Homo sapiens: one gene and its partners. The protein of the gene in region 1 interacts with the protein of each later gene in a biochemical or structural test. Each region holds a gene or a part of one and is shown in the gene's direction. Other genes may lie near its edges.

What was found.
Region 2: the proteins of KPNA4 (region 1) and HJURP interact in a test that uses a peptide from one of them, tested with the Homo sapiens proteins (one study listed by BioGRID).
Region 3: the proteins of KPNA4 (region 1) and RCC1 form a complex in vitro, tested with the Homo sapiens proteins (one study listed by BioGRID).
Region 4: the proteins of KPNA4 (region 1) and ZRANB3 interact in a test that uses a peptide from one of them, tested with the Homo sapiens proteins (one study listed by BioGRID).
Region 5: the proteins of KPNA4 (region 1) and TPX2 interact in a test that uses a peptide from one of them, tested with the Homo sapiens proteins (one study listed by BioGRID).
Region 6: the proteins of KPNA4 (region 1) and PLEKHG4B interact in a test that uses a peptide from one of them, tested with the Homo sapiens proteins (one study listed by BioGRID).
Region 7: the proteins of KPNA4 (region 1) and SCAND3 interact in a test that uses a peptide from one of them, tested with the Homo sapiens proteins (one study listed by BioGRID).

The regions. Positions count from the first base shown.
Region 1 is NC_000003.12:160,520,572-160,524,071, reverse strand, and holds part of KPNA4 (importin subunit alpha-3), read left to right. Parts: intron 1-2,161; coding exon 2,162-2,293; intron 2,294-3,500. UniProt on the Homo sapiens protein: Functions in nuclear protein import as an adapter protein for nuclear receptor KPNB1. Binds specifically and directly to substrates containing either a simple or bipartite NLS motif.
Region 2 is NC_000002.12:233,847,680-233,851,724, reverse strand, and holds part of HJURP (Holliday junction recognition protein), read left to right. Parts: exon of another isoform or gene 1-1,865; coding exon 1,866-1,962; intron 1,963-4,045. UniProt on the Homo sapiens protein: Centromeric protein that plays a central role in the incorporation and maintenance of histone H3-like variant CENPA at centromeres.
Region 3 is NC_000001.11:28,529,920-28,533,964, forward strand, and holds part of RCC1 (regulator of chromosome condensation), read left to right. Parts: coding exon 1-20; intron 21-603; coding exon of another isoform or gene 604-696; intron 697-1,883; coding exon 1,884-2,071; intron 2,072-2,251; coding exon 2,252-2,431; intron 2,432-4,045. UniProt on the Homo sapiens protein: Guanine-nucleotide releasing factor that promotes the exchange of Ran-bound GDP by GTP, and thereby plays an important role in RAN-mediated functions in nuclear import and mitosis.
Region 4 is NC_000002.12:135,209,540-135,213,584, reverse strand, and holds part of ZRANB3 (DNA annealing helicase and endonuclease ZRANB3), read left to right. Parts: intron 1-4,045. UniProt on the Homo sapiens protein: DNA annealing helicase and endonuclease required to maintain genome stability at stalled or collapsed replication forks by facilitating fork restart and limiting inappropriate recombination that could occur during template switching events.
Region 5 is NC_000020.11:31,797,865-31,802,420, forward strand, and holds the end of TPX2 (targeting protein for Xklp2), read left to right. Parts: intron 1-500; coding exon 501-688; intron 689-3,105; coding exon 3,106-3,216; 3' UTR 3,217-3,936; downstream 3,937-4,556. UniProt on the Homo sapiens protein: Spindle assembly factor required for normal assembly of mitotic spindles. Required for normal assembly of microtubules during apoptosis. Required for chromatin and/or kinetochore dependent microtubule nucleation.
Region 6 is NC_000005.10:157,796-161,840, forward strand, and holds part of PLEKHG4B (pleckstrin homology domain-containing family G member 4B), read left to right. Parts: intron 1-3,987; coding exon 3,988-4,045. UniProt on the Homo sapiens protein: Guanine nucleotide exchange factor (GEF) which specifically activates small GTPase CDC42 by exchanging bound GDP for free GTP.
Region 7 is NC_000006.12:28,580,578-28,584,622, reverse strand, and holds part of SCAND3 (SCAN domain-containing protein 3), read left to right. Parts: intron 1-4,045.

The DNA.
Region 1 (3,500 bases):
TTTGATCTGAGCATATTAGTGACATGTCCTTTAAAAACATGTATCTAGCTTTTATATACAGTTATGAGCAAGTAACTTGAAATTTTTGGCCTATGTCAACAAATTTTAGCATATGTTAATATTCCAGAAAAGAAACTCAGTTACATTTGCAAATTGAAATTTAGGTTTTTTCACATATATTGATACCATTTTTTTATGTGAATTCTTTTTTTTTTCTTTTTGAGACAGAGTCTCGCACTGTTTCCCAGGCTGGAGTGCAGTGGCATGATCTCCACTCACTGCAACCTCTGCCTCCTGGGTTCCAGCGATTCTCCTGCCTCAGCCTCCCGAGTAGCTGGGTTTACAGATGCCCGCCACCACGCCTGGCTAATTTTTTTGCATTTTTTAGTGGAGACAGGGTTTCACTATGTTGGCCAGGCTGGTCTTGAACTCTTGACCTCGTGATCCACCCACCTTGGCCCCCCAAAGTGCTGGGATTGCAGGCGTGAGCCACCACACCCAGCCTGTGCGAACTCTCATTTGATGTCTTCTTTTTACATTAGAAATATCCTTAGAGCTTTCTTGAATTTCCTAAGAAACAATGGCAAAGCATTATTTTCACCTTTTAGGAGTTTCGGGGTGTCTTTTTGGTTTTTTTTATCTTATTTTTTTATTTTCTCTTGGGTGTCCTAAGCATAACATTAGTTTACAGTTTTACGATTTTTTTAAAGTCAGGGTCATAAAAACAAGAAAAAATAAACAATGCCGAATTGTTTCTGTTTTTCATAGAGACGGGGTTTCACCGTGTTGCCCAGGCTGGTCTGTAACTCCTGGGCTCAAGCAGTCCACCTGCCTTGGTCTCCCAAAGTGCTGGGGTTACAGGCGTGAGCCACTACTCCCTGCCTAGTTTATTGTTTTAAAGGTTTTACACTTCTCCAGCTTGTCTTGACACAGAGTTCATATTCTGGAAAGGCTTTGGAAGTAGTTTTAGGCACAATTATTATTCCCATGTCTTTGTCAATAATTTGTGTATTTATTTGCAGCAGTTACAGTTGTTTGTCATACTGCCCTTTGGTCATAACTTCTAATTAGGACCTAACGTACTAGGAAAGATCAAACACATGGCCTGTTGTACTTAAAGATGTAATCGTTAAAAAAAATGGTAGGCTACTTAGTAGAAGTTGATTACACAGGCTTTTTTTTTTTTTTCATAAGTAGCAGCTGTAGTGAAGTACGTATTTTTTGTTTTAATTACAGGTCTCACAGATTGACCTATGATTATTTTAATGTCTTGATCTGCAGCTGTAGGGGACTTCCACTATTTAAGAAGTTGCTGGCCGGGCGCAGTGGCTTACGCCTGTAATCCCAGCACTTTGGGAGGCCGAGGCGGGCGGATCATGAGGTCAGGAGATCGAGACCATCTTGGCTAACACGGTGAAACCCCGTCTCTACTGAAAAATGCCAAAACTTAGCCAGGCGTTGCGGCATGCGCCTGTAGTCCCAGCTACTCGGGAGGCTGAGGCAGGAGAATGGCATGAACCCGGGAGGCGGAGCTTGCAGTGAACCGAGATCGCGCTGCTGCACTCCAGCCTGGGCGACAGAGCGAGACTCCGTCTCAAAAAAAAAAAAAAGTTGTCTCCAGTTCTGTAAGGCAAAACAAACTGGTTGGAAAAGATTAAAGTATTTTATACTACAATATGAATACTTGGGTTATTGGCTTTAGGCATATCTACATGGTACTTACAATACTAGAGAACTCCTTGAATATATTCATCTAGCCCAGATGTTTTGAACAACTGTGCATGTTGGATACATGTAGTCTTTCCAGCTTTATACATGAGCCACAATGTTTTTGGACCTGTTATCCCTCAGCCTTTGGGAAAGAGAATGTCTTTTTCTCCTGTTTTATGAGCTGTGTAGTGTGCGTGTGTATCTTAGTGAACTAAGATTGGATACTAATCTGGGATCAGAATCCTGAATATGGCTAAAAGATGTACGTCTTAGTACAGACATTTATAGATGATGATGTTTAATACCGTAGCGATCAGATTCCAATGAATTAAACTGAGAGAAGAAAAGAAGGAAGAAGGTAGTTGAACAATTTTAGAATGGTTGTTTGGTCAAGAATTACTAAAATGAGAAAATATTTAAAAGTTGTTTGAATTTTTATTTTATTCATTAGATACTGGTAGACACAGTCTGGGCCCTCTCTTACCTTACTGATGCTGGCAATGAACAAATACAGATGGTAATAGACTCTGGAATAGTTCCTCATTTGGTTCCTCTGCTCAGCCACCAGGAAGTTAAAGTTCAGGTAAGTTTGTTCTTAGTTAAATTATAAGTATTTCTTACCACTAATTGCTTTAAGCATGGCATTCAAAGATGGACAATTTCAGTAGTTTAAAGTATATTCTTAGCATAACAACAAATCTGTGATGGAAAGGGGAAAATAAATAATAAGATGCCATTGTAGATTACTAATTTCTTTTTTTAAGATGGGGTCTCACTGTCACCCAGGCTGGAGTGAGGTGGCGTGATCTCAGCTCACTACAACCTCCACTTCCTAGGTTCAAGGAACATTCTCCCACCTCAGCCTCTTGAGTGGTTGGGATCACAGGCACACACCATCATGTGTAGCTAATTTTTTTCTATTTTTGATACAGTCAGGGTTTTGCCATGTTGGCCAGGCTGCTCTTGAACTCCTGGCCTCAAATGATCCTTCCACCCCAGCCTCCCAAAGTGCTGAGATTACAGGTGTGAACCACCATGCCTGGCCGGATTACTGATTTTTAATGTAGACCAGGGAAGTTCATTATAGCAACATGCATGGCATCTGAAACAAGTATTGACAGACACTTATTTTTTCCTACTCCTCTTCTTTTTGTTCTTCCTCTTTCACTTCCCTACTTCTTTTTTTTTCTTCCTTGCCAACCATCCTTATTTACTCACCTGGCAAGTTTAGTTAACTCTTATCTTCATTGGTGCTGAAATAAGGGTACTCTACTGAAATGTGCTGTTTAGGGACTTTCTAAATTGTTGCTTTTCACTTATTTAAATTTATTTTTTATTGTTTAAATTCTTTCACATAATATTTATCCCAAAGAATTTGCATTTAGAAAGAGCCAAAAACAGAGTGTGAGAAGTTCTCAGAGATATAAGCAGTAGCTGTTAAGCTACAGTTGTAATGGGGGAGACGCAGCAAGCTCCCTCTACCTTTCTGAGGTAAATAGTATATTTTAATCTGCTAATGGCTTAGAATCTGTAAAGTACAATAATCGCATAAGAGAAACCGTTAGTCTGTAGCCTAAGTCATTATGCCTGAACATCAAAATAAACTGTGTGGAGCTGTTTTTAATTTCTCCTGCTCAACCCCTGGAGATTTCTGTTTCAGAAAATATTTCTTAGAAACTTGAGCTTTAAAATGCTCTTCAGGTGATACTGATACATAGTCAGATTAGAGACCCTGTACCTTAAAATTAAAGCACTTTAAAGAAGGAACACTTAGCTAAATACAGAAAGAA
Region 2 (4,045 bases), on another chromosome or scaffold:
ACTAATGCTATTTTAGTACAATGTGATTCCCTATAATACATATCTTTATAAATGCATTTTTTTCTCCCTCACTTTTCCGGTTAATACATCTGGCAAACTCTTCTCTTCATCAACTGTTGTATAATTATAAAATTATATAATTATTTAAAAAATCATGTTTTTTTAACTGCTCTCCTGTTGATAGGCAATTAGCTATTTGTGGCTTCCTTTATTAATAAATAAGGGTCAGCACACTTTTTCCACAAAGGGCCGGATGATACATATTTTAGGCTTTGCTGGCTCTATGGTCTCTGTTGTAACTACTCAGCTCTGTGTTGCAGGAGGAAAGTGGCCGAAAATAATATGTAAATGAGTGTACGTGGCAGTGTTCCAATAAAACTTTATTTATAAAGCCTCTGTTAGAAATGGTTTTCAGAGAAAATCCCGGTCCTTGTCTCTTCCCAATACTGATAGTCCCCCTTTTCGATAAATGCTGAGAAGTGGGATTATCGGGTTAAAGTATATATACTCTTTGAATTATGCATAATACAGATGTCCACTCATTAGACCAGTGCTTAATATGGTCCTGGTAGCAAAAAGTTTTCATTTAAAGATTTATTTAAGGTTTTTGCTTAAAATGTAGGAGGAACCCTACCTGGGTCTCCAGAATCTTCAGACCCTTTCTTGGGATTAGGAAACTGGGCGTAGCCTGAGATTTCAGCGGGGACATCTCTGACTTCACTGTAATTGCTATTGGTGACAGTGTCCAGATCCGCCTTCACCTTTTCCCAGACGACTTGGTGCTCCTGCCGCCCTGGAGGCTGGGGGAGGCTGTGGGCCCTGGCAGGCCGGGTGTTGACCTGTGCTGGGTTGGTTATAACACAATGCCTGGGTTCTGTTTGTAGCTACCAGAGCTACCACATAGTTTGGGGTTGGTGTAGATCGTCTGCTTCTCTGTGATTCTCAAACCAGGTTCTGCCTCAGACACAGCCACAAAACAACCCTGTAAACTCCACCTTACGTGACGGTTTCACTGGAAGCAAAGGTTCTGATATTCTGGAAGTGGGCTTCAGTTACCCTGTAGTGCTCCTGGGTAGCCCCAAGTCCTCTGAACCCTCAGAGTTGACACCTGAGGACCATCCCTAACGGTATAGGCCTCGCCACCTTCTCACGCCCTGTTTTTATAAGGCTGGGTGGTTCCTAAAATATTAATATTTCAGCCAATCTGGTATCCTGAATGCTTGAATTTCATTACTGAGAACCCACCGATGCCATGCTCTGGGATTATTCGTGGGGCCTGCTATAGAGCAGGCTCTGGAGAGCTGAAGCAGGCCTGACCAGGAGTGTGGCCGCCCGACCACCTCTGCCCACCAGGTATGAGCTCCTGGTCAGGACAAGCAGCTGCCTCTGTGCGTTAGCTTGGGCTTAAACTGGCTCCTCCCCGCCTTAAATACTCCAGCATATTCTTTAAAGATCACAGGAAGTTGCCCAGGGGCCACTTGCCTATTTCTCTGTTCTCGCTGATGACCTCAGGACAATTTTGTTCTGTTTCAATTTGGCTTTTTGTTTGCCCCAGTCCCTGTCATCCCTGGGCCACTGTTAGGAGGTGTGAGCTTATCTGCTCGTGCCTGGGCCCCTGACTTTCCCTGCTCCTTCCAAGTGGCTTTTTAAGTAGCAGCCCCCGCTGCAACCCAGGGGAGCCTCAGCTCCTTCCTACGCTCTTGAGGCCTCTTATAAAGTGGACATGCAGGGAGAAGAGAAGCCTTGTGGCAGGCTCTTGCTGTCTCCTGTGTTAACAGAAGGATTGCAGTTTTATTATTTTGCGGTGACTTTGAAATGTGCTGTCACTCAAACAACCATGTTTTTATTGGCTTCTGCACTTGGAGGACTCCTCCATGAAGCCCGCGGACAGGACAGATGGCTCCGTGCAAGCTGCAGCCTGGGGTCCTGAGCTTCCCTCGCACCGCACAGTCCTGGGAGCCGGTGAGTGTTGCCTTCGTCAGAGAACTGAAGTCAGGAGGGACCAGGTCTGACGCACCTGTTACAACAGCTTAAAGCCTAGATTCCTCAGTAGTGAAGTTTTTATTTTTTCTAAGGTATATCTTAAAAACTAAAATCATGTTAAAGTACCCTGTTGATTCCTTCTGAGCTCTGCCTTGCCCACAGTTACATCCGGTGCCTGACATATGAATGGTACTCAGGTGTTTTTTGAGTAAATAAACATGCCCCTCCATGTGAAAAGTTAATATCCAGATTTAGTAAGACTTAAGATTTGCCCCTACAGGGTGGTGTTGTGAACCCTCACTTCTATAGGGCAGCTTCCCACTTCGTCCTCCTAGGAGGCTCCTTCCTTTTCCCCAGGCCAGTCTCACTGCCCACCCCCATCCTGTCCTCTTTTCTAGGGAATCTGTCCCTCACCCCTTCCTTCTGTCTTCAGTCTCTGTCCCCTGGATCCATCCGTCGGTATTTAGATGCGCTCAGACTCACGTTAGATACATCAGACCCTTCGTGGCTCTCCCCTGTCCTGGGCCCCTTCCTTGCCACATCCCTTTGCCCAGTTCCCTTTACCACCAGAGTGAAATAACCTGCTCCGTTTGGTGCCATGGATTCCCTACCCCACCAACCCCGTGTGTTCCTCCTCTCCCGACTCCTTTCGGCTCCATCTCTAAAGCCCAACTCTGGGTGAGGTTTCTCACAACCCCATTGCTAAATCCTGTTAGCATTCTTTGGGTTTTATTCTTTGGGTTTTGCGCTCTCCATTGCATTTAAACCTTCCAGAAGTTCTGGCCTGGGCCTCTGTGGCCCCCTGCTCCTCGGCCCCATGCTCCTCCAGTTTTCCTCCTTCTGTCTTCGTCCTTCCAAGCCTGCAGTCTGCTCGCCTCCCGTCCCTGCTGGATGCCCTTTCTAGAGGGTTTGTTTGAGCTGCCTTTGCCCTTCCCCCAGGTGGAGCCATGGCTTCTCTGTGTGCTGACTGTAACCTCCAGCCAGAACTCAACTGGGGGCGTTTTACTGCCCAGCAGCCCCTCTGCTTCAATACTTCATGTCCAGACTTGGCACAGCTAAGACTCAGCCCGACAGACAGGCTCCCCATCTTCTGCTCTGCGCCTCAGTACAGGCCCCTGCCGTCTTCCCTCTAGCGTTAGCCAGAAACCCAGGATCTTCATCTCAGCCTCTGCCTCATTCCTCATGGCCAAGGCATCCCTGTCCTGTGCCTTGTGCTTCGTTAGCTCTCATGTCCCCGCTGAGCACCAGCCTCCAACCCCACCCGGGCTCCCTCCGCCCCACTGACGCCCCTGTGAATGTGGTCAAGCCGCTTCTCTGATGCAACACGTGGCTTCCCATTGCTTTTGGGGTAAAAGGCCAGAACCCAGAATGGGGCCTGAAGTCCTGCCTGACCGCATGGCCTCCTTGCTGCCCCCGGGAAGCCCCTGTGATCCCCAGGCTGGAACAGACCCCCACTCTTATCTGAGCTCTTTAGACCTGGGTTCCTCTGCTTGCGAAACAGTTTTGTCACTAGCCTTTAAACACCTGTCTCTCCTGGACACTGGCCTTCCGCAGCCTCTGTCCCCCTCTGCCCAGTCCCTTTCCTGGCACCTTGCCTACACCAATAGTTAGTGATGGGTGTTGAGTCGCTAAAGGGAAGCTGGTGGTCTTTCAGAGTAGAATTGGAAAGCTCTTCATGAGGATATTTACCTGTGGTGCTATGTGTTTACTGCTATTAATCCAGATTTTAACTATAAATCCTTAGGTCCATGAATTTCCCCAACCGCTTGAAATCACAGGAAATAGTTATTTGATAGATGTACTGCCCAGTATGGCACCCACCAGCCCTCTCTGGATGATATTTAAATTAGTTGAAAGTGAAATAAAATTTAAAATCCATTTCCTCAGCCTTACTGGCCACATCCCAGCTGTTCAGTAGCCCGGTGTGGCTAGTGGCTGGCCTAGGACAGCAGGCAGAGAACTTTCCATGGTCACCGGAAGTTCTGTCGAGCAGTGCTGGGCTTGAGCGTCTCAACTTCCAGGCTCAGAGGCCATGGAAAGCTGGAGGTGGTGCAGAATCTGC
Region 3 (4,045 bases), on another chromosome or scaffold:
CAAAAGCAAGAAGGTGAAGGGTAAGTTGGCCTTGGCCTCTTTGTGGGTACAGGTGGCCCCTTGAAACCCTAAGAACCCGGGACTGGGCTCCTTTCTTCCTGAGGCTTGAAGCTGAAGGGTGTGGATGTGCAGAGACCCCACCCAGCTGGAAGGTTTCCTGTAGCTCATTGAATCCTACCCTCTGGGAATCACAAAGTGGGCAGAAACTCCTCTCAAAGCACTCAGGCAGCACTGGCACAAAAAAAAAAAAAAAAAAACTAGACCCTAGGGCTTCACCCCAGGCAGTGATGCATTATGGTTAGGACCACTGACTTTCCGACATGGGTTCAAGTCCTTGCTCTGCCACTTTCTAGCTGCTGGGCAAGTCACTTAATCCCGCAGTTTGGATTATCAACTTCTTAAAATGGCGGCAGCCAGAGCAGCGTCACCCTCTCTGGGCTGTGTGAGGATGAGATGAGATAATGGCCTGGCAGCATTTGAGGGAGGTGGCTGTGGTTTCCTCTGTCCTGGGACCCCGGAGGGGGACAGGGAGGAGAGAAAAGCCAGCACCAAACTGGGAGGGGAAGTGTGGACCCACGCTCAGACAGTGTCTGTCTTTTGCAGACACGAGGGCCGCTGCCTCCCGCCGCGTTCCTGGCGCCCGCTCCTGCCAAGGTGCCTGCGGGCCGAGCCCTCCTGACCAGAAAACCCGACCAGGTGGCTCCGCGCCCGGGGCGCCCTCTGTGCTGCCAGCGCGGGCTCCTCAGCGGTGGCCACATCCTCGGGGGAGGGGCTGGGCGCCATTGGCTGCCCGGGGCTGCGGGTTGGGGGGCCGCCTTTGGCCCACAGAGAGCCCCGGGCGCGCACCTCCCGCAAATGCCGCTGTCCGCTCTTCCTCCCGCCCCTCCTGCCTCTCCACTGGATGGTGGAGGGAAGAGTCCGTTTCTGCAGTGGATTTGCCCGGGAGCTGAACTTATTCACTGGCGGACGGCTTGGGCATGGAGGAGGGCTTGGATGGAGACTGGGGATTGTTCTCTGACCCACGTAGTCTCCCTTGCTTTCGGTGCAGATTCTGCTATTATAATTAGCTTTCTGCGGGGCAAGGTGGCTCACGCCTGTCAGAAGATCGAGACCATCCTGGCTAACACGGTGAAACCCCGTCTCTACTAAAATACAAAAAATTAGCCTTGCGCGGTGGCGCGCGCCTGTAGTCCCAGCTACTCAGGAGGCTGAGGCAGAGGAATCGCTTGAACCCGGGAGGCAGAGGTTGCAATTAGCCAAGATCCACCACTGCACTCCAGACTGGCGACAAAGGGAGACTCCGTCTCAAAATAACAATAACAATAATTAGCTTTCTTTTCTTTTTCTTTTTTTTTTTTTTTTTGAGATCAAGTATCACTCTGTCGCCCAGACTGGAGGCGGCAGTGGCACGATCTTGGCTCACTGCCACCTCCGCCTCCCAGGTTCAAGTGATTCTCCTGCCTCAGCCTCCTGAGTAGCTGAGATTACAGGCTACTGTTGGCAAGGCTGGTCTCTTAACTCCTGACCTCAAGTGATCCGCCCGCCTTGGCCTCCCACAGTGCTAGGATTACAGGTGTGAGCCACCGCACCCAGCCCTTCTTGCCCTCTCCACCAAGATTCATTTCACAGTATCCAGTGTCTCCTTGTTTCCCTTTCTCCCCTTTCACGTGAATAATGTGCTCAGTTCTTAATCTCCACAAAAATCCTGTGAGAGAGGTACTTTTGTTGTCCCCATTTCACAGATGACAAAACTTAGAAAGTTCATACTAACAGTCTGTGGCAGAGCAGGGGCTTCTGCACAGGTTTGTCTGATCCCAGAGCCTGTGACCTCTCCTCGCTGTCGTCATCCTCTACACTCAGGGTCTATCTTCTTCACCCTTCAGTCTCACACAGGTCCCACAGCACAGAACCCGGCTTGGTGCTGACACTAGGCCAGGGCGACGTGGGCCAGCTGGGGCTGGGTGAGAATGTGATGGAGAGGAAGAAGCCGGCCCTGGTATCCATTCCGGAGGATGTTGTGCAGGCTGAGGCTGGGGGCATGCACACCGTGTGTCTAAGCAAAAGTGGCCAGGTAGGTGTTGGGGACTGGCACAGGGTTGGACAAGGCCTGGGGTTGGGTGGCTTGGGGCAGGGCTTTTGAACCACGCATGTTCACTGTGGAAATGGAGCTGGCTAGTCAAGTGGGGAGTGGCCTACATGAGAATGGACTGCGAGGCCAGACGTTGCATTAATGAGGGCATCCTGGGCACAGGTCTATTCCTTCGGCTGCAATGATGAGGGTGCCCTGGGAAGGGACACATCAGTGGAGGGCTCGGAGATGGTCCCTGGGAAAGTGGAGCTGCAAGAGAAGGTGGTACAGGTGTCAGCAGGAGACAGTCACACAGCAGCCCTCACCGATGATGGCCGTGTCTTCCTCTGGGGCTCCTTCCGGGTAAGGCTGGGTCTGAAAGTCTGCATGGTCCCTGAAAGACAGAATTAATTGGCGGGGCCCCAAAGATAATCCACTTCCATGCCCCCATGGTACTTACTGGTGGGGAGATGAAAGCCCACAGGTAGAGCTGAGGCCCAGACCCAGGACTCTAGCTTCCTCATGTGGGCCTGTCCACGCCACTGGCTGCTTCCTTGAATCCGATGTCATCAAGTGTCTGTCCTGGGAAGTGAGTGGGTCAAGGATGTCCCTGGGTTGAGGCTGATCCAGGAGGCCTGCTGTCTTCACCCATCTCCCTGACTTCTGTCTCCCCCTCACCTTGCCAGCACTGCCTCTTCCACACTTCCCAGAGGCTTGGATGGGGCAAGGAGGTGTGGAGGCAGGGATTGTCGCATCTCAGAGTTTCCAAGGTACAGAGGAGTGTAGTTGAAAAAACAGATTGTGGGTTTTTGTTGTTGTTGTTGTTGTTGTTTTTGTATTGTTTTGAGATGGAGTTTCACTCTTGTTGCCCAGGCTGGAGTGCAATAGCGCAATCTTGGCTCACTGCAACCTCTGCCTCCCAAGTTTAAGTGATTCTCCTGCCTCAGCCTCCCAAGTAGCTGGGATTACAGGCATGCGCCACCACGCCTGGCTAATTTTGTATTTTTAGTAGAGACGGGGTTTCCCCTGTTGGTCAGGCTGGTCTCGAACTCCCGACCCCAGGTGATCCACCCGCCTCAGCCTCCCAAAGTGCTAGGATTACAGGCGTGGGCCACCACACCCGGCCTGATGGGTGTTTCCTTATCACATCTATTTTGAAATTTTCATGGAGAATTTCAAACACATGAAAGTAATCAGAATTGGGCTGGGCGCGGTGGCTCATGCCTGTAATCCCAGCACTTTGGGATGCCAAGATGGGCAGATCACGACGTCAGGAGATCGAGACCATACTGGCTAACATGGTGAAACCCCGTCTCTACTAAAAATACAAAAAATTAGCCAAGCGTGGTGGCGGGTGCCTGTAGTCCCAGCTACTCGGGAGGCTGAGGCAGGAGAATGGCTTGAACCCGGGAGGCGGAGCTTGCAGTGAGCCAAGATCGCGCCACTGCACTCCAGCCTAGGGGACAGAGCGAGACTCCATCTCAAAAAAAAAAAAAGAAGTCCGGGCGCAGTAGCTCATGCTTGTAATCCCAGCACTTTGGGAGGCCGAAGCAGGCTGATCACCTGAGGGGTCGGGAGTTCGAGACCGGCCTGACCAACATGGAGAAACCCTGTCTCTATTAAAATTACAAAATTAGCTGGACATGGTGGTGCATGCCTGTAATCCCAGCTACTCGGGAGGCTGAGGCAGGAGAATTGTTTGAACCTGGGAGGCGGAGGTTGCAGTGAGCCGAGATCGCGCCATTGCACTCCAGCCTGGGCAACAAGAGCGAAACTCTGTCTCAAAAAAAAAAAAAAAAAAAAAAAAAGGAAGTAATCAGAATATCAGAATTATATTTTTTTCTTTTCTTTTCTTTTCTTTTTTTTTTTTTTTTTTTTTTTTTTTTTTTTTTTTTTTTTTTTTTTTTTGAGACAGAGTCTTGCTCTATCACCCAGGTTGGAGTGCAATGACACAATCTCGGCTCAGTGCAACCTCTG
Region 4 (4,045 bases), on another chromosome or scaffold:
GTGACTGATTATAGAGAGGCAGAGAGAGAGAGGCCTCCAGGGAAACCAACTTAGCAGCATCATGAAATGAAACCTCTGTACCTGCAGCAGGGAGATACTATCGGGAAGCATTCTGATTCTTGCTGCAGAACCCAAGTTAAGTCTCAGTAATTTGGAATAACCATGTATCTCTGAAAGCAAATGTGAAATATGCTGTTGAACAACAGCATTGACTGGCAGTCTGTATAAGGATCAGTTAGACACTGTCCTATCAATTTACTTTCTAGAGAAACTGAATCAGAGAGTCTCCAGACTTAGAAACATCAGGCTCAGTAGAGATAAAGAGTGAGGTATTATATTGAAAACTGAAACTCCTCGGACCCCCTTTTTTGCACAGCTTTCAGATTGACAGCAGCGACATTTTACTTCCTAAGCAGGACGTTAGAGGATTTCTCTCTTAAAAGTACTGAATGGTTCTGAAAAAAGACCTATAGTTAACTGACTTTGGGCACTCCCCCAGAAACATTGATAAAGGTCTCCAACCAGATTATCCGCCAGTGATGTCCAACAGTTTGCAGGCCCCATCCAAGCTCAGAGCTTGCAGTCAGCTTTTGAATGTCTCACTTTTACATTTGAATGGTAGCCAAGATTACCAGCCACTGTTTTGGTTACTGAGTCCCATTTATCAGAGGCAGGCCTAATTCACTTGGAGCCCTGTCATGTTTAGGATGCCAATTGTTTAATCTCTGGTTACAGCTGAGCTCAAAAGCAGGTCAGAAATCCAGAGCCCAAGATTGTGTTCATTGATGTGGGCCACTTTGCAACGTACACTTTTCTTGCAAAAATTGCCATCTTCCACTCCCGTCCCTATCCAGGAATTTGTTTAGTAGACAACATTCTCCCTTCTCTATTTACTAAAATTGGGATTTACCATAATCCTTTTGGGAGTTGGTGAACTTCCTAGCAAACCTCAGTAGAAAATTAAGTATCGGCAACTTGCAACTACGTTTGAAAAGTTGTCAGCTCCGTTTTTTGGAATTTGTTCGTCTGTTTCTTGTGGTTTCCAAAAATTTATTCTTAAACCTCTTGTAGGAAAGCAAAAGGTTATTTTTAGTTTCTAAATCTCTGACTAGATTTCTCAGCATCTTTTAGTTACTGAATTAGGTTTTTAAGCTTTTAAACATTGAATAATACCTCAGGCAAGGCTTAATATCCCATTGCCCCTCAAAGCTAGGAAGCTTTTGAGTTCATTTAGAATTCACAGAAATACTTTCCCAAAGTGCATTTTTCAAGGGAATAAAATGGTTGAAGAAATTGTTGGAGGTGGGGCCAGAGAAGGAGGAAATTTGGGAACTAAAAGGGCAAGTAAAAGAACTCTAAAACAATTTACTGTGCTTTAACTACGACTACTGCCCAGACTGGAGCACGATGGCTTAATTTCCTTTTTGCTCTAAGAAAGACATGCAAGTAGAGTGCAAACATGTGAAAAGATATTCCCCCTTACTCTTAATAGGAATGCAAATTTTAAAATCTATGATGAGATGCCTATCACTATTAGCAGAGACTCTTAAAAATGACATTGTGCTAGTGAAAGAGAAGAAACAGATACTCTTATTCATTGCTGGTGGATACATACACTGGTATAACCTTAGAGGAAAGAAATTTGTCAAAATCTACCCACATTTAAAACACCTAAGACCTTTGACCAAGGAATTCTACTTCTGGGGATTTATTCTATAGATACATAATGTGTAGAAAACATCATATATAACGATATCTATTACAGCATTGTTTGTGATAGCAAAGAATGAAAACAACCTAAATGTCCATTTATGAGAGACTGGTTAAATATATGGTTTATCCATATAATGGAATAACATGGAGCCATTAAAAAGAATAGGGAAACTATGATAATAAGGAAAGATCTCTGAGAAGCATGTTTTGGTAAAAAGAGCAAGGTGAAGATTAGTGTATATGCTATGCTATTATTTATTTCTAAAAATAAAAGGTATAATGAAAAATGAGTGCTAGTGGGTACGGGTTTCTTTTTGTTTTGTTTTTGTTTGAGACAGGGTCTCAATCTGTTGCTCAGGTTGCAGTGCAGTGGCGGGATCTCAGCTCACTGCAACCTCTGCCTCCCGGATTCAAGTGATTCTCCTGCCCCTGCCTCCCAGGTAGCTGGGACTGCAGGTGCGCACCACCACGCCCAGCTAATTTTTATATTTTTAGTAGAGACAGGGTTTCACCATGTTGGCCAGTCTGGTCTCGAACTTCTGACCTCAAATGATCCACCCGCCTTGGCCTCTCAAAGTGCCGGGATTACATGCATGAGCCACCGCACCCAGCCTCAGGTTTCTTTTTGGAGTGATGAAAATATTCTGGAATTAGTGATGATGGTTGTACAGCCTTGTGAATATACTGTTAATGCACTTAATTGTAAACTTTAAATTGGTGAATTTTATGCTCTGTGAATGATATGTCAATGGAAATGCAAAAGTAAGTAAATAAAAGGCATACACCTATACTCAGAAAAAAATAAGCTATTTCTTATTTTATTTTTCTTTCTTTCTTTTTTTTGAGACAGAGTCTCTCTCTGTCACCCAGGCTGGAGTGCAGTGGCGCAATCTCAGTTCACTGCACCCTCCATCTTCCTGGTTCAAGCGGTTCTCCTGCCTCAGCCTCCTGAGTAGCTGAGATTACAGACACACACCACTATGCCCAGATAATTTTTGTACTTTTAGTAGAGACAGGGTTTCACCATGTGAATGTGTGAAAAGATATTCCCCCTTACTCTTAATAGGAATGCGAATTTTAAAATCTATGATGAGATACCTATCACTATTAGCAGACTAATATGTTGGCCAGGCTGGTCTCGAACTCCTGACCTCAGGAGACCCACCCATCTTGGCCTCCCAAAGTGCTGGGATTACAGATATGAGCCACCATGCCAGGCCAAAAATAAACTATTTCTAAAATGAGCCAGACACGGTGGCTCACACCTGTAATTCCAGCACTTGGGGAGGCTGAGACAGGCGGATCAATTGAGGCCAGTTCGAGACCAGCCTGGCCAACATGGCAAATTCCCATCTCTACTAAAAATACAATAATTGGCCAAGCATGGTGGTGCGTGCTCGTAATCCCAGCTACGGGAGGCTGAGGCATGAGAATAGCTTGAACCAGAAGGCGGAGGTTGCAATGAGCTGAGATAGTGTCATTGCACTCCAGCCTGGGCAACAGAGTGAGACCCTGTCTCAAAAAATAAAATAAAATAAAATAAAATAAAATGAATTAATCAGCATTTCTGCAAAGATGAATTAGCATGTCTCTGAGAGATAGGGAAATACACTATTTCTCTAATGATATCCAGGGTTCCTAAAAGATCTTTTGGTCTAATTGGTGAGGGACGTATTGTACACATCCCAGGGATGTCAGTCAGACTCCAGTTACTGCTGTCTCAGTGTGATGGCTTCCAGAAGACATGCAATAAAATGACTCAAGATCATTTTGAGTCAAAATAAAATAAAAACAAAACTGCCAACAGAGGTAACTTTTGGGGAGGGGAAAAAGGAAGATGGGAGTGAGAGAGAAAATTTCTCATCACCATAAACATGCTTGTTTGCCTTTTGAATTTAGAACCATGTGCTTATATCACCTAATCAAAAATTAATAAAATAGTTTATTAAAAAAGGAAACCTGTTTATTATTAAATCTATCCTAATAACATAAAGCAAATTTCTAAAATTTTACCTACGATTGCACAATTCCATTGTGATTGAACTTTAATTTTATTGTCAAGCTGCCTAATTAAGAAGCACTCAATAATATTAAGAAATTCATGTTTAAACTAATTTCCAAAAAAATCTACAATAGGTGTAAACCACCAGAGAAACTAGGCCAATTAATAAGAAGGAATTAATCAGGTAATTGCATTTTACCAACTTAAATTCCCCCATCACCTTTAATGGGAATAACTTCTCTTTACTTCTAGTCCCTGAACATTGTGTGGTATTGTTAGTGTTGGGTAATAAGGTTCTGAATCCCATATCAAGAGTGGCTTTATTTCTGT
Region 5 (4,556 bases), on another chromosome or scaffold:
AAACATTTGATTCCTTAAACACTGGGCAGTGTGCTAGAATACTGGGATTCCACCGGGTGTGGTGGCTCATGCCTGTAGTCCCAGCACTTTGGGAGGCCCGGACAGGAGGATCACTTGAGCCCAGGGATTTGAGACCAGCATGGGCAACATAGCAAGACCCCATCTCTTTTTCAAAAAAATCTTTCCAAAAAGGGAAAAAAAGAATATTGGGATCTTTCTTCTATGTCTGCCTCAAAATCAATCACTATATAGTTTTGTGCAAGCTACTTTATGTCTTTGCCTTTTTCCCAATTACACCAGACGATTTCCAGGGGCCCTTTGAACTCTTAAAATTCTAAAACTTTTTGTATTTAGTTGGCTCTACCTTTCTCCCAATGGGGCTTGTTTAGAGCACAGTCTTCCTGTTAGTGTGCATGTCTGTGCCACTTGCTCATTCCAGGGGGCGTAGGTTTATGCAAGTCCTGCTTGTGCACCAATATTTTTTCTGTTTCTGTACTTAGAGGGCCTTTCTGGTTCTCTAGTTCAGGAACCTTTTCAGCTGGCTACTGAGAAGAGAGCCAAAGAGCGGCAGGAGCTGGAGAAGAGAATGGCTGAGGTAGAAGCCCAGAAAGCCCAGCAGTTGGAGGAGGCCAGACTACAGGAGGAAGAGCAGAAAAAAGAGGAGCTGGCCAGGCTACGGAGAGAACTGGTAACTGGGAGCATGAGCACTGACGAACACAAACATGCCTCTGTTTTATTTTACCTGTACCTTACCTTGTACCAGACAGGATCTAAGGTAGCCCGCAAGGCTGTACCAAAGACAATGAGTGAAAGGGGGAATTGCACAAACTGAGGGTGGTGATGAAGTTGAGTTGTGAATGAAGCTAACGATGTGTACATTGTGATCTAAGTAGGAGCTGTAATTTTGGCCCTTTTTAGGAACCAACCTGTCAGTTACAAAACTCGCAGTGTTCATGAGACATAAGACAGTTGTTCAAAAAATACATTTATCCCTTTGATAGTGAATTTTTAGACAGAATTTCTTCCGGAAGTTTTCATAAGGAGGACAACATGTGGTATAACCATGATGCCTTTCCTAGGACTGTTTTTTATTTATTTGTTTATTTTATTTATGTAACTTATTATTTCCTCTGGGGTTAAGAAGCACCACTGAGTTTTGTAATTAGACAAGAATACATAGCGAAGGACATGGGAATTAAATGGCAACTGTATTTTTGTTTTAATACTGAGCCCAAACTCCTTGGAGTTACAGTGTTCGTCGCTCCAGGTAATCCTCTACTAACATAATTATTTAGATGTTGGTTATCCAAAAAGAAACCTGAACTCCACATTAAGGACCAATCTGCTAGGAGGGCAGCAAGTTGTGTTAACTGTGTTAATGAAGAAGCAGACAGTTTTAGATGGAACTTCGTATGATAAATAAAAAAAGAAAGGGTCATGGGGAGATGTTGGTAAAAGGTTACTTAGTTACAGTTAGATGGGAGGAGTAAATTTCAAGAGATCTATCATATAACAAGGTGACTGTAGTTAATGATATATTGTATTCTTGAAAACTGTAAAGAAAGTGGATGTTATGTGCTCACACTACAATAAGTGGATGTTATGTGCTCACACTACAATGTTAATTAGCATCTTGCTAATTAACAAATGCATTATCTCACATAGTAACCATTCCATAATGTATGTCTACTTTAAAACATCAGCGGTACACAATAAAAATATACAGTGTTATCTGTCAATTAAAAAGAAAGAAGGCCAGGAATGGTGGCTCACACCTGTAATCCCAGCACTATGGGAGGCCCAGGTGGGTGGATCACTTGAGGTCAGGAGTTGGAGACCAGCCTGGCCAAAATGGCGAAACTCTGTCTCTACTAAAAATACAAAAATTAGCCGGGCATGGTGGCACGCACCTGTAATCCCAGCTACTCGGGAGGCTGAGGCAGGAGAATTGCTTGAACCTGGGAGGCCCAGGTTGCAGTGAGCCGATTGTGCCACTGCAGTCCAGCCTGGGGGTGACAGAGCGAGACTGTCTCAAAAAAAAAAAAAAAAAAAAAAAAGAAGTGTAAGTTGTTGAGGTTTTGTCTAAAAGTGCTATACTACAGCTGGATGTGGCAGCTCACACCTGTAATCCTCACACTTTGGGAGGCCAAGGTGGGAGGATTGCGTGAGCCCAGGAGTTCAAGAAAAGCGTGGGCAACATAGCAAAGTCCCATCTCTATTTTAAATAAATAAATAAAATGCTAGACTAGCAGTTGAAACAGCTATTGGCAGCTATTGGCATAGGTGATTATGCCCATAGGAAGGTTCCACGGACACACTATTTAGGAGACCAGCCTCTTGGTAAAATCTAGACTACCATTTGCTGAGTGAATGAGAAAATAGTATAATCCCCACTCTATATACACTCATACAATCAGCCTTTTTTCCCGGCCTCAACTTTGATTTTTCTTTAGCATTTGGTACCTGCCTCTTGTGTTTGTCCCCATTATAGAACTGCTTCTTGCAGCAATTCTCAACATAACTGATGGCAACATTGTAAAGCACAATTCAGTCAATGCTGGTTAACTCTCTACTAATCTGGCTTGATTTAGGATTGATTTTAGACTACCCTAAAGGATGGATGGGACCATGCCTTCTTTAGCCACCCTTCCTGGTATGGTTGTTGTGTTTTGTTTTTGCTTTTTCCCCAGGATTCAGGCTTTTGGTGAATATTTATAGTCAGTAAACTTAAGACTGTACTCTGGGAAATTCTTAGCTTGTAACTTCTCTGCTATACTTGAGTACAGCCCTATTATACCCTAGTAAATCACACAGGACATAGGTTTGGCATTCTTTAGTGAAAGCTGAGGGACTTGAGGAGACTGTGGCCTAAAGGAAAGCTGGGGGACCCAATAGAGACCTGAATAGAAACCCTTTTGGGCTCCAAAGCACATACACTTTTCCATCATACCGTGTTGCCCCCCAGGCCCCACTCCCCACACCTGAAACTAGTGACTGGGACCTGTAAAACTCTACAAACATTTTCTCAAAAAGAAAAAAATAAAAGCAATTATAAGCGTAGTTCTCTGACATCCCTCTCACTGGTAACTTTTCCTTACTTTGCAGGTGCATAAGGCAAATCCAATACGCAAGTACCAGGGTCTGGAGATAAAGTCAAGTGACCAGCCTCTGACTGTGCCTGTATCTCCCAAATTCTCCACTCGATTCCACTGCTAAACTCAGCTGTGAGCTGCGGATACCGCCCGGCAATGGGACCTGCTCTTAACCTCAAACCTAGGACCGTCTTGCTTTGTCATTGGGCATGGAGAGAACCCATTTCTCCAGACTTTTACCTACCCGTGCCTGAGAAAGCATACTTGACAACTGTGGACTCCAGTTTTGTTGAGAATTGTTTTCTTACATTACTAAGGCTAATAATGAGATGTAACTCATGAATGTCTCGATTAGACTCCATGTAGTTACTTCCTTTAAACCATCAGCCGGCCTTTTATATGGGTCTTCACTCTGACTAGAATTTAGTCTCTGTGTCAGCACAGTGTAATCTCTATTGCTATTGCCCCTTACGACTCTCACCCTCTCCCCACTTTTTTTAAAAATTTTAACCAGAAAATAAAGATAGTTAAATCCTAAGATAGAGATTAAGTCATGGTTTAAATGAGGAACAATCAGTAAATCAGATTCTGTCCTCTTCTCTGCATACCGTGAATTTATAGTTAAGGATCCCTTTGCTGTGAGGGTAGAAAACCTCACCAACTGCACCAGTGAGGAAGAAGACTGCGTGGATTCATGGGGAGCCTCACAGCAGCCACGCAGCAGGCTCTGGGTGGGGCTGCCGTTAAGGCACGTTCTTTCCTTACTGGTGCTGATAACAACAGGGAACCGTGCAGTGTGCATTTTAAGACCTGGCCTGGAATAAATACGTTTTGTCTTTCCCTCCCTGATTGTGTTATTTGATGTTTTTAAATCTGTTAAGCCCCTTTGGAGGTCACATCTTATTGGGAAATGGGTAGTTTGAGAGGTGGGTCCAGGAACTTTTTTTTTTTGAGATGGAGTCTCGCTCTGTCGCCCAGGCTGGAGTGCAGTGGTGCGATCTCTTCTCACTGTAAGCTCTGCCTCCTGGGTTCACGCCATTCTCCTGCCTCAGCCTCCCGAGTAGCTGGGATTACAGGCGCCCGCCATCATTCCCGGCTAATTATTTTTTTTGTATTTTAAGTAGAGACAGGGTTTCACCGTGTTAGCCAGGATGGTCTCGATCTCCTGACCTTGTGATCCACCCGCCTCGGCCTCCCAAAGTGCTGGGATTACAGGCGTGAGCCACCATGCCCGGCCCAGGACAGTACTTTGTAATTTTTTTCTGTCTTATGTCAGAATATCTCCATATTCTGTTAACTCTCTCTCAGTAACCACTTAATCATGTATGTTATGCCTTCACACAGACTGTACCTTCTTCCCTAAAGACTCAGCTCAAGTTAAATTTTTTTTTTGAGATGGAGTCTCGCTCTGTCACCTAGGCTGGAGAGCAGTGGCACAATCTCTGCTCACTGCAGCCTCCCGCC
Region 6 (4,045 bases), on another chromosome or scaffold:
TGCTGCGATGAATGTGCGGGTGAAAGAGCCAGCAGCATGGAGAGGCAGCAGTGGGGTGGAGGCATCCCCAGCCCTCCTGTCTGCTGGCAAAGCTCCCCCGGCCTTCAGGTCCATGCGCGTGCCCTCACGGGGGCCTCCAGACAAAGACGTGCAGCAGGGACGCGAGGCACTGTGCATGCTCCTGGCCTCCCCACGACTGACCCCAGCTCCCAAATATTGGCCAGGGGCCCAGCTGGTCCAATCCCTGGGGCAGGAACAGGAACCCCACACCAGGCAAGTGGAGTCCAGGCCAAGCTGCAGCCACCAGCCAGTCCGGGCTGTCTCCAGTCTGTGCCCTCTGTCCTGGGGGTCTCCTCCATCTCCCCTCCTCCCTCTGCTCTATCCTGGCTCCATCTCCCCTCCTCCCCCTGCCCATCCTGGGGGTCTCCCCCATCTTCCCCTCCTCCCCCTGCCCATCCTGGGGGTCTCCTCCATCTCCTCTCCTCCCTCTGCCCATCCTGGGGGTCTCCTCCATCTCCTCTCCTCCCTCTGCCCATCCTGGGGGTCTCCTCCATCTCCTGTCCTCCCTCTGCCCATCCTGGGGGTCTCCTCCATCTCCTCTCCTCTCTCTGCCCATCCTGGGGGTCTCCTCCTTCTCCTCTCCTCCCTCTGCCCGTCCTGGGAGTCTCCCCCATCTCTCCTCCCACTGCCTATTCTGGGGGTCTCCCCTATCTCCCCTCCTCCCTCTGCCCATCCCAGGGGGTCTCCCCCATCTCCCCCTCCTCCCTCTGCCCGTCCTGGGAGTCTCCTTCATCTTCCCCTCCTCGTTCTACTCCGTCCTTGGGGGGGTCTCCCCCATCTCCCCTCCTCCCTCTGCCCATCCTGGGGGATCTCCCCCATCTCCCCTTCCTCCCTCTGCCTGTCCTGGGGGGTCTCCTTCGTCTTCCCTTCCTCGTTCTACTCCTTCCTGGGGTGTCTCCCCCATCTCCCCTCCTCCCTCTGCTCTTCCTGGGGTCTCCTCCATCTCCCTCCCCACTCTGCCCCATCCTGTGGTCTCCTATTTCCTGTATCCAAGTCTTCCTCTTTTTTCATTTACTTTGGCGTTTTATGCAGAATAACTTCCAGGACTTCCCAGAGAAAGGGATCTTGGGGTGAGCATTTTTGAGGCCGTGGTATCTAAAAGCATCTCTACTCCACCTTCATGGCCAGCAGTCACTTTAGTTTCCCTTCGCCAGCTGGAAGGCCCTGCGCCTGTGCTTAGCTTCCATCCCACTCCCAGCCTTCTGCCTGTGCCCTGCTTCTCGGTGGAAGCCACAGACTTTCCTGTCGTCCTCGGGGCTCTGGAATCTGAGGGTTGCCCAGGTGCGCTGAGGGCAGGTGTGCCCGAGGGTCACCCAGGTGCACTGAGAGCAGGTGTGCCTGAGGGTGGCCCAGGTGTGCCTGAGGGTCGCCCAGGTGCACTGAGGGCAGGTGTGCCTGAGGGTCGCCCAGGTGCACTGAGGGCAGGTGTGCCTGAGGGTCGCCCAGGTGCACCGAGGGCAGGTGTGCTCTTTGTGTCTGCACTGCGCCCCTCTGTTCTGGGAATTCTGTGACATCCTTCGTGGCGCTCGCATTTCCCACAGCTCCACACTTCCATCTGGTTCTGGAGTTTTCTGTCCTGTTGCCTTAATTTTCCCCACCCCTGGCTGTGTGCTGTCCTTGTAAGGTAGATTTTTCTCAGCTTTACCCTCTAACTCTATTATTGAGTTTTTTGTTTCTGCTCTTGCTTTTTAACTCCATGGGCTTATTTTCTGAACAGTCCCCTCTCCATACTAATCATGATGAGTCTGCACAGTCTGTGGCTTCTGTGGGTTTGTTCTGGCGCCAGAGGCTTTCCTGGCGACCCCTGGCTAGGAAGCCTGTGGCCCACGCATCTTTAGCATTTTCTCCCTGGCGGTCTGATTCTTTTCCTCTAATCCCGGCCTGAAAGGAGAGCCTGGCCGTAGCTCAGTGTTCACCTGCCAGGGAACAGACCCTGGGCCCTGTGGAGCAGGGTGCCCAGCTCCTTCCCTCCGACACTCCCTCACCCTGTCCTGTGGAGTCTCGGGACTTGGCCTCTGCTCTCCTCAGGCCCTGCCACTCCCGCTTCCTTCCCGGCCTCCAGGTTTGTGCCCTGGCTGCTCTCTGCCCACCGTGCTGAGTGTTACGCCTTGGAAGATGCTTGCAGGGCTTTAGTGGTGTCTCAAGAGGACACGTCTCACTCTGCAGTCTTCACCCAGAAACTCCACGTTGTGACCGGACAGGCGATCCTGCTATGTATAGGTGCACGTCTGTCTCTATATATTTAACCTAAAAAGTGCATGCACACTGTGGGAAAATTAGAAACAAATAGATTTTTACACACGGGATGCCGCATGTGGCGGCCTCGGCACCCTGTGTGTGGGCATGCGCTGCAAGCTCAGTCCCCGAGCCATGTTCACACGGCTCCCACACTGAAGGCCCTGGGCTCCTCCCCTCTCTGCTGTTAGAAACTCCCCATGTTGAACATCTCTGTGTCTCTGCTTCCTTCACAGCCTGTGGGTGTTGACTCTGGATACATTCCTAGGCTCGGATGGCTGCGGTCAGACCATTTGTTTTTGGAGGTTTCCACGCATAAGCCGTGGCACTCCAGCCGCACCTGCCTCCCGCCGGCTGCCCCGTGGGGAAATGGAGCCCCTAAACAGTGTGCCCTCAGATTTTCTATGCGACAGCTGGACATTCTCTTCACACGTTTATTATTTTTATTTCTGTAGTGAATTACTTGTTCATGCTTTAGACAGTTTTTCTAGGGTTGATCATCACTTCTGTCTATGTTATATGGATCCTTCATGTTCTGCTTGTTTTCCTAGTTTGTCATTTGCCCTCTAGCTTTGCTTATCTTTTAAACAGCCCTTTCTACCTTAAGTTATAGAATTATTAGTGTATTTCATCATAGAACCTTTATGACTTGAATTTTTGTATTTAAATCTTGAAACCAATGACAGCCGATTTTTCCACAAAGTTGGAGGCCAGGCTCCAGCTCTGCGCCACCCCCACTCTGCTCTGCCGAAGCCGCACCTGCCCCTTGCCTGGCAGTTGCAAGACTCTGCCCGTGCTCCTAAGAATCAAGATGCTGTGATTTTCTTCTTGACTCTGGCTCTGTTTACAGACAGCGTATGTGCTGGTCTGTCTCTCCTCTGCTGCATGTCTGGGGTCATTCGGTACCTTCTGATGGTCATGGATCCAGGCAGCTGTTCTCTTCTTCACAACAGGCCTCTCATCTCTGGGCATCTGACCCCTAGTCGCCCCTGGTGTTGCTGTTTAACGACAACATGAAGGGCTTACCTCTGACATTTCCACTGAATCCAGCAGTAAATGCCTCCAAAATAAGAACCTTGGTCTTGTCACCAGGGCGCGTAGCCACAGGCGCTCCGTCCAGCAGGGCTCAGCCAGGGGCTCCCCCATCTTTCCCAGGCAGCCTCAAGGGGCCAAGCAGCCACTGGCCTGAAGAATATTTCTGGAATATGCTTACCATATTAACCAGTTTCAAAATGGAAAGTCCTGGATCTATTGTTCAATGATTTTAATGTCCTTTTCCAAACAATGAAAATAGTTTGGAGCTTGAGCCTCAGAGGCCCGTGCCACCTCTCATCAGTCGTGTTCATTCACGGGTGGTTACGCAGCCAGGCTGTCAGCCCTGTGCAGCGTGTACTCAGGACATGACCAAGACGCATCCCTCCCTCGGTCCTGCTAAATCCTAGAGTGTGACTTCTTCGCATGTTTAAATATAAAATGTTCTTCCCCTGTGTAGATCAAATCATAGTTTGGAAAAGAACTAGAGAAATGCCTCGGTCCTTTGGTGCCTGCTCTCGAGAATGAGAGGCAGCAGCAGGCAGCACTGTGGGCCGTCCGAGCCTTGGTGCCAGTGGCTACACGCAGACCCAGCCCACACCTGGAGACATGAACGTGGAAGCACCGGGCTTGTACTGATGCTTTGTTCCTTGGGTACAGCAATCCTGCCAGAAAGGACTACAGCTGGCGAAGGAGAACCCGCAACGTACAGAGGAAA
Region 7 (4,045 bases), on another chromosome or scaffold:
GCAGGACTGGAAGTACTCTAGAAACACACTGTGGGGTTTAAGGCTACAAAGGATCAACTGATGGTGATGCTGGGTGCAAATGCCAGTGGAATTTTAAAGCTAAAGCCTGTGATTATCATTCTGCCAATCTATAAGCTTTAAAATGAATTGTAAAGACTAGCCTTGGTGCCTACTACAGGTCTAGCAAGAGAGACTAGATGACAGGGCAGATATTTTCTGATCTTTCGGGTGATTTTTTTGTAGATTAAAAAAAAATAAAACATTGCAAGAGAAAAAAATTGTCTTTTAAAATTCTTATAATTCTCAGTGATACACCAAGCCACCCTCCAGTAGTCACTGAGCTTTCCTCAAATATCACAGTTCTCATTTTACCTCCCAATACAACTTCTTTACTGCAGCCCCTTAATCATGGTGTGATTGCAATCTTTAAAGCTTATTATTTAAAGCAAACATTCAAGATATTGGTTGCCTATACAGGGGGTGACAGTGCCCTAACATTTTTTGAATTCTGTAAATGATTCAACATTAAACTTATTATTGATATTATTGTAGAGGCCTGGAATGATTTCACAAAAGCCTGTTTGCACGGGGTGTGATATACAATTCTCCCTGATTTAATTTATGATTCCAAAGCCTTTGAGCCTTCAGAAGATCTCCCCAAAACCAACCCAAGCTGTATCGCTCTTGCAAAGGGGGTTGGATTTGAAGAAGTTGCTAGTGAGGATAATGCGGAGCTGCTGCAATCTGACACACAGGATCTTTCTACAGAAGAGCTGCAAGTTAGTTGCTGAGGCACAAATGGAAGGTGTGGAGGAAGAAGAACATGCAGTTCCACAAGCTACAAGCTGCCTCCCAAGAGCTTTTCACTTCTCAGTTATCTTCTGCTTCAAGTATGATAGAGAAGCAGTTGGAGTAGATAAAAGATAATGACTACAATGCAGAACGCAGCATGATTTCACTTCATGACATAAAGCCCTAATTGGACCCATATAAACAGCTTCTTTATGAAAGAAGGAAAGTGTTAAAACAGCAAACACTGGGTATCTTTTTATAAGCCAGTGTCAAATAAATAAAAACAAGATGATAAACGGGAACCCACATCATGTTTCTTGTAGTATCACTATATCCAAGGGTGGAAGAATATAACATCAAATGTTCAAGCGTCTTCACTTGGATTTTTGATGATTATATCTTTCCACCTTTGAATTGTTGTTGTTGTTGTTTGTTTGTTTGTTTGTTTTGAGACAGAGTCTCGCTCTGTCCCCTGGGCTGCAGTGTAGTGGCACGATCTCGGCTCACTGCAAGCTCTGCCTCCGGGGTTCAGTCATTCTCCTGCCTCAGCCTCCCGAGTAGCTGGGACTACAGGCGCCCGCCACCACGCCCGGCTAATTTTTAGTAGATACGAGGTTTCACCGTGTTAACCAGGATGGTCTCAGTCTCCTGACCTCGTGATCCGCCCACCTCGGCCTCCCAAAGTGTTGGGAATACAGGCGTGAGCCACCGTGCCCGACCCACCTTTGAATTTTTGATGATTATATCCTTCCACCCTTGCCCCCCCTTTCCTCACACTTGTTTCTAACAAGATAACATCACCTTTCTAAGGTAAAATCCTATACTTAAAGTAAGATTTATTAATGTCTTATATTTTTACTAGAGTTTTTATAGTGTTTTTTATTTTATTTTATTTTTATTTTTATTTTTTGAGACGGAGTCTCACTCTGTCCCCAGGCAGGAGTGCAGTGGCAGGATCTTGGCTCACTGCAACCTCTGCCTCCCTGGTACAAGCGATTCTCCTGCCTCAGCCTCCTAAGTAGCTGGGATTTACAGGCAAGCGCCACCACGCCCAGCTAATTTTTGTATTTTTAGTAGAGACGTGGCTTCACCATGTTGGCCAGGATGGTCTCGATCTCTTGATCTCATGATCCGCCCGCGTCAGCCTCCCAAAGTGCTGGGAGTACAGGCGTGAGCCACCGTGCGCCAGCCGGGAGTTGTTATAGTTTTAATAATGCTCTAGTGACAAAGTTGTGTAGGTGTTAAAATAGTCCACCCTTTAACCGTATTTTCCCCATAAATCCTGTCACTTTTCTGCAGTTTTGCAGAAAGCATGTTTTTTTAATACATTCATATGTTATGTTGCAGCACAAATGCCTATATAAGCAGTTTCTCACGTCTAGTCAGCACACCCTTTTCTCTTTGCTTTAAATAACAAATACTGTAGTTTTTTTCCCCCTTAAGATATGCCTGTTACTTTAGAATAGGGGTATCCAATCTTTTGGCTTCCCTGGGCCATATTGGAAGAATAATTGTCTTGGGCCACACTAAAATACACTAACACTAACGATTGCTGATGAGCTTAAAAAAAATCACAAAACAATCTTACAATGTTTTAAGAAAGTTTACAAGATTGTGTTGGGCCACATTCAGAACTGTCCTGGGCTGCAAGTGGCCTGCAGGCTGCAGGGTGGATAAGCTTGCTTTAAAATTTCCCCTTCTAGCTTTGTTGAAAAATGTAGCTTCTGGTAGGACTTGGTGTTTGGTCAGTTCCTTGGGTATTGTTCAGGTTATACGCTGATCATGTTTGATAGTTTTTTTAATGTGGTCAGAGTTATAAATATCTCTTAGTGTTGTTGAATATCAAGTTTGTATAAATGTTTCTCATTTTTCTTGTTTTTGTGTGATTTCCCCCACAGGGGAAATACCACTGGCAGACACTTTTAGCTGCCAACCCAGTGTCTATTCTACCCTTCTTTCCTCCCGACAAAATGTTGGTTTTGTTCATACTGGCAATATATCTAATTAAATTCTTTTCCAGGCTTCCTTGTTCTAGAGTTAACTATGCAACAGAATTCTGGCCAGGGAGAAATAAGCATATTTCGGGGAGGAGGTTCCTGGGGAAGCTTTTATTTTCCTGATAGGATAGGGGAGATTACTTTAGTTTCACCTTTTCTCACTTCCAGTCTTGAACACTAATATGATATCTGGCCATCTTCTGACCATTAAGTGATGGTAAGCATGAGGCCAAATGCTAGTGTTAAAAGTGACAGAGCAGAAATATGAAGACAGCTAGGGTCCCTGAAAAACTGTTAGATAAATGAGTTGGTGCCAGCAACTACCTTCTTCTAGGCTTCTTGTTATGTAACAAAAATAAACCCCTATTTGTTTGTGCCACTGTAAGTTAGATGTTCGAATTTATTGGAAATATGTGCATTTCTAATGAACACAGCAATATTTACTCTACCATATTACAACCAAAAGTTTCTTTCCAGCATTTTTATTTATTTATTTGAGATGGAATCTCACTCTGTCACCCAGGCTGGAGGGCAGTGGCACGATCTTGGCTCACTGCAACCTCCACCTCCCAGGCTCAAGCAATCTGCCTTCCTCAGCCTCCTGAGTAGCTGGGACCACAGATATGTGCTACCATGCCTGGCTAATTTTTTGTATTTTGGGCAGTGATGAGGTTTCACTATGTTGCCCAGGCTGGTCTCGAATTCCTGAGCTCAAGCAATCCTCCCACCTCGGCCTCCCAAAGTGCTGAGATTACAGATGTCAGCTACTGCACTCAGCTTCTTTCCAGCGTTAAAAAAAATCAAACCCAGGAATTGAATACTGAAAGACTAATGACTGTCATGACCAGTTTGAAGTAACTTCAGTTTTGTAATTTATTACCACTACCCAAGGTACTCTTCAAACTTCTGTGGTAGAGGCAGAAGTGGAGTTCCTCCCGGTTCTAAGACCAGGCCCACCCATTTTGGTCTAGTCCAGCTGGTGGAAAAGTAGAGGAATCAAGAGACTAGATTTGTGTTTGTGCTTGGGGGGGTGGGGGGGTGGGGGAGAGTCAGTGAATAATTCAGCACAATGAACCATATCCATATTTTGTTTCTTAGTTGCTCCAAAAGCTGGGATTGTGTATACTAACATTACAGAATTGATACATTGTTTAATTATAAACAGCAGGTGGCCCTCTTTCACAGATTCTGTTTCTGGCAGTTATGCAAAGATTTAGACAAATTGAAATGCATGCTATTATATTATACAAAGCAAT